2 separate regions of the Homo sapiens genome follow, and region 2 is linked to region 1. The links come from fine-mapping of genetic effects on gene expression. A gene starts in region 1. The other region holds a variant in brackets. All regions are shown on one strand. Distances are between the middles of the regions. Region 1 holds the start of PDE8A (phosphodiesterase 8A). Region 2 has its middle 160 kb from the start of PDE8A.

Region 1 (2,500 bases):
CTAGGAAAGGTGTGGACGGTCGGAGAGGACAGGAAGGAGCCGGCTGCACCGCGCCAGGGTCTCCGCAAACCGGGAGCCCAGGGAGGGCGGGAAGACTGGCGGGGGTCCGAGGCAGCCCGCTACAGGATACGTGATGGACGCCCAGAGACACCGCCCTCCAGCTGGTGGGGGAGGAGCCCCAGCCACCAAGAAGTTAAGTGACTGGCCCAGTTCACACAGCAAGCTAGTGGCTGTGTGCGTGTCCGGGGTCCTCATGGGCCCCAGGCCTGCAATGCGTACGCCCCTTCCCCTGGCTCTGCCTTTGGGGTCTCGGACGCCCGACTAGCACTTTGGTTAAAATGAGAGGAGGACGGGCGCCTGCAGCCTGCCCGGTGCTGTAGCTTTGCGGCCGCCCCGGCGCCTGTGTAATCCGAGGCGTGGCGCGCCAGGTTTTGGCCTGCGAGGGAGCGCACGTGGGCTGCGGCTTCTCGCGGACGCCCAGGCCCCACCCACCCGGGACCCGGCGCGCGGCGCCCCAGTTTGACTTTCACTACCCCCAAAGGAGGTCTTTCCACCGGCCTCTTTTCTGGGTAACAGCTCCAGGGCTCACACTTGGTGACCCCACCGAGGTCAAGTAGCCGCTAAGTTACGGAGCCGGAATTCGAATTTGGCGGTCGGGCTTCTGGTGGCCTCGGGACGGAGGTGGCTGTGTGTCCCTGGGCAAGTCTCTTTCCTTCTCTGGGTAGCCCAGTCGGGCGCCCCGCCTGTCGTCGCCGCGCATGCTCAGTTGCGGGCGGCGTCCGGAGGAGGTGGCGGGCGCCCCAGCTGCTTTGCATTGACGCCAGCACCCGCTGGAGGTCACCGCTGGGGGCTCGGCGCGGCACGCTGCCGGCAAAACCCGGCCCGGATCACGGAGCCGGAGCCGGAGCCGTACCGCCAGCAACTCCTGGGTGCGCGCAGCCGTTTCTGCGCTTCTCGACGGTGCGGCCCCAGGCCCCGCTGGAGCCGAGCTGCTCCCCTCCCTACCCTGGCGGACGTGGCCCGGCCGCTCCGAGGGGTTTCCCTCGGACCCCGCGCCTAAACCCCGGCCAGCGGGAGCGTCTAAGGCTAGCCTTGTACCCCACCGGCACTCGGCCTGGGGGGGCTTTTCCGCGAGGCGGCGGCCCAGCGGGCGGAGCGGCGTGGGTGTCCACATCTAGGCGGAGTCTGGAGCCGGGGAGGCGGCGGCGGCGGCGGCGGGAGCGGGGCCGGGCGCGGCCGGGAGCTCGCCTCCCCCGGGGGTCGTGCCGCAGCTCGGCGAGGGCAGCGTGGCTCGCGCGGCGTGGACTCAGCCGCTCCTGGGTAAGGAGAGCGCAAATCTCCTCCCCCTATTTCCCCGGAAGCGCGGCCGAGGCGAGCCCGGCGATGTGAGAGGCGGCCGTCGGCTCCTGCCTCAGGAAGGGCATGTTCGGAGGGGCGGCCTCGGCACGCCACCCGCCTAAGCGCCCCCTTCCCACCGCAGCCGCCGCCGCCGCAGCGCCCGCACCGCGATAAAAGGGGCGGCCGCGTTTCCTGACGCGAGATCCGCGCTCGCCGCCGCCCGCCCAGGCGGCGATGACACGGCGCCCGCGGCGGCCCGGAGGCGCCGGGTGGGCCGTTTGCTGACCGGATCGCGGCTACCCGCCAGCGTGTCCGCGGCGCCGCCGCCAGCATGGGCTGTGCCCCGAGCATCCACATTTCCGAGCGCCTGGTGGCCGAGGACGCGCCTAGCCCCGCGGCACCGCCGCTGTCGTCCGGCGGGCCGCGCCTCCCGCAGGGCCAGAAGACGGCCGCCTTGCCCCGGACCCGCGGCGCCGGCCTCTTGGAGTCGGAGCTTCGCGACGGCAGCGGCAAGAAGGTAAGGGGCGCCGGGCACTCTGGGGCCGCCGCGAAACTCGGGCCCGGCCAGTAAGCAACTTTCCCGCAGGGGCCGGGCGGGGTCCCCCCCACCCGGCCTCGGTGCCCTCTTGTCCCGCTTTGGATGGTTCTGATTGACGCCAGTCTCCCGCCTTGCCGGGGCAGCGTTCAGAGAAGGACCGACCCAGGTCCCGCGACCCTGATTTCCTAGGGTTGCGATTAGGACGCCGCCTGTGTCGCGGCGTCGGTTTTTTGGACACATCCGACTCCCGGAGCGGCGGGGCCCGATGTGAAGTTGACTGAGGCGCTTGCATCAATTTCCTCTCCAAGAGCGGGTGTTTGAGGGAAACCCCCAGGATATTCTGGCGCGCCCCTGCAATGTTAAATCAGTGTGAACTTTGTTCTTTTCCTGTGGTAGAAAGGGAAGGGCGACTGGCCTCACCACTCTTTTCCCTCTGTCAGCTTTGCACATGCAGTTGCAGGTTACCATTTTCTTCGGGACTGCTAGAATGTAATCTGGAACATCAGCTTTGCTTCATTGCACATGTATTTGAGGTCCACGTTTATTAGCATACATACTGTATTTAAAGCATATGTAATTAGAAAATACTGTGAAACGCGATTTTTGAAGCATTCAGCAGAACAA
Region 2 (3,012 bases), 160 kb after region 1:
CCGGGAGGCAGAGGTTGCAGTGAGCTGAGATCGTACCACTGCACTCCAGCCTGGTGACAGAGCAAGACTCCATCTCAAAAAAAAAAAAAAAAAAAAAAAAGGTAGACACAGAAAAATGTTAATATTTATTAAGTCTAGTGGTGAAGTACATTGATTTTTTAAAGGCAGCTAGGGCCAAGGCAGCTAGGATATTTTTTCTTCTTTTGAGACAGGTCTCTGTTGCCCAGGCTGGAGTGCAGTGGCGCAATCAGGCTCACTGCAGCCTCTACCTCCCAGGCTCAAACAGTTCTCCCACCTCAGCCTCCTTGAGTAGCTGGGACTATAGGCACATATTTTAAGCAGAGAAAGTAGTACACAAAACAGAAGCCATATGAAAACACAATTAAAAAATCAACAATAAAAATCAAAATATTTTATGTGACAAATGACAATATGTCAAAAGCAAGGAAATGTTTATAATTCATTTTATAAAAGCTTACTTCCATAATACTGATTTTTAAAATTTTTATATGAGAAAATGAACAGTACGGTAGAAAAAATTTAAAAATGTTATGAACAGAAAGTTTGTAGAAAAACAAAAGGTTCTTAAAGTTTATACTACACTGATAGTAATCAAATGCAAATTAGAACCAATTTGAGATATTTTTCACCTTTAAGATGAGTAAAGAATAAAAAGTTTGATAATATAGTATGTTAATAAGAATGTGTGGGCCGGTTGCAGTGGCTCACGCCTGTAATCCCAGCACTTTAGGAGGCCAAGGCAGGCAGATCATAAGGTCAGGAGTTTGAGACCAGCCTGTCCAACATAGTGAAACCCTGTCTCTACTAAAAATATAAAAATTAGCCAGGCGTGGTGGCGGGCACCTATAATCACAGCTACTCCAGAGACTGAGGCAGAAGAATTGCTTAAACCCAGGGGGCAGAGGTTGCAGTGAGCCGAGATGGCGCCACTGCACTCCAGCCTGGGTGACAGAGCAAGACTCTCTCGGGGAGGGGGCGGGGGTGGGTGGTAAAAAAAAGAAGAATGAGTGGAAATGACATGGCAGGTGAGTATAATTAGTACAACCTAATTACAAATTTGCCAAATCTATCCAAATTGCAAATGTACATGCAGTGTGACCTGGCAATTCTACTTCCAGGATTTTAGCCTAAAGATATTTACACGTGGGAAATAATAGTCTACAAAATTATTTATTATTTACTACTTATATTAGTAAAAGACTGGAAACAAATTGTCTATCATTTAAGAAGAGTAAGTAAACAAGTTACAGGTATGACCATACAACAGAATACTATGCAACTGTAAAAAAGAATGAGGAGACTTATTTTCCAGATCCGCATGTAAGGAACTTGAAAGTCGCCACTTCATTCTAACAAGTAAAAAGCTAAACAGCCTGAAAAATCAACAGCTCTTCCTAGATCTGTAAGAAAGGTGAGG[AT/A]ACAAGTCAAACTGCTGCCCCTAAGATAGGAGAGACCAGCAGGCAAATACAGGAAATTATATCTTACTGGAGCAGAGATTCATGAGTGGAAACCACCATGGGAACCAGTGCCAGGGTAGAAGAACCTGTCAGTAATTGAAGAATTGGTGGAGGCTCAATGTGGACAGTCTAAGAATTAAAACTCCTGGGGAACCCAGTTATAAGGGGTGCCCCCCGCCTGCACTTTCGTGAATTTTACCTCCAAGAGCTTCACAGTTCTCACAGTAAATATAACAGGAAAATTCCCTCATACTTCCAGCAAAGAGAGGAGGAAAGCACTGTTTTGTTTATAGCAAAAACACTGCGAATGAATGAAAAGTGCTTTTGATGGGCTCATTAATAGGCTGGACATGAATTAGGAGTGAATCTCTCAGCTTGAAGACATGTCAAATAGAAACCTACAAAACTGAAAATTAAAGAGAATAGGACTGAGCAAAATATCCAAGGACTATGGAGCTAAAAAGTTGTAATATACATGTTATAAGAATAGCAGAGGGAAAATACAGAAAGAAAAGAACAGAAGAAATATTTGAGGCCAAATGTGGTGGCTCATGCCTGTAGTCCCAGGGCTTTGGGAGGCCAAGGTGGGAGGATCACTTGAGGCCAGGAGTTTGAGACCAGCCTGGGCAACATAGTGAGAGCCACACCCATTTTTAAAAAAAAGCCAGGCCGGGCACGGTGGCTCAGGTCTGTAATCCTATCACTTTGGGAGGTAGAGGCAGGTGGATCACCTGAGGTCAGGAGTTCGAGACCAGCCTGACCAACATGGAAAAACTCTGTCTCTACTAAAAGTACAAAATTAGCAGGGTGTGGTGACACATGCCTGTAATCCCAGCTACTCGAGAGGCTGAGGCAGGAGAATCGCTTGAACCCAGGAGGCAGAGGTTGTTGAACCAAGATTATGCCATTGCACTCCAGCCTGGGCAACAAGAGCGAAACTCTGTCTCAAAAAAAAAAAAAAAAAAAAAAAAACCCAAAAAATGAAAAACACATAGATTAAATGGATGGAGAAAATATACCACACTAACACTAATCAAAAGAAAGCAAGACCATCCTAGACAACATGGTGAAACCCTGTCTCTACTAAAAATACAAAAATTAGCTGGGCGTGGTGTTGCACACCTGTAGTCCCAGCTACTCAGGGGGACTAAGGCAGGAGAATCGCTTGAACCTGGGAGGCAGAGGTTGCAGTGAGCCAAGAACGCGCCACAGCACTCTAGCCTCATGACAGAGCGAGACTCTGTCTCAAAAAAAAAAAAAGAAAGGAGTAGTTACATTAATTGCAAACAGAGGAGACTTAAAAGCAAGGAAAGTTATCAAGGATAAAGAAGGTCATTAGATTATGATAAAGAGATCATTTCTCCAAGACATAATAATCCCTAACATGTATACACCAAACAACATAATATCAAACTACATGAGCCCCAAACTGATAGAACTGTAAGGAGAAAAGATTAATCCACTATTACACTGGGAGATTGCAACACTCTTTTATCAGAAGTAAACAGATTCAGCTGGCAGAAAATTTAGTAAG

Evidence for each region.
Region 2: its variant is fine-mapped to the expression of PDE8A in whole blood (TOPMed, PIP 0.99).

What each region holds. Positions count from the first base shown.
Region 1 is chr15:84,980,494-84,982,993 of GRCh38, forward strand. It overlaps PDE8A (phosphodiesterase 8A), which reads left to right and starts at 1,363. Exons shown (of 22, transcript NM_002605.3): 1 at 1,363-1,855. The coding sequence starts at 1,670. RefSeq lists silencers at 425-474, 795-1,284 and an enhancer at 1,012-1,544.
Region 2 is chr15:85,143,156-85,146,167 of GRCh38, forward strand. No RefSeq gene overlaps it. Among named protein-coding and RNA genes, the nearest start is that of PDE8A, 160 kb to the left of the region's middle. The variant AT/A (reference allele first, on the strand shown) is at 1,439.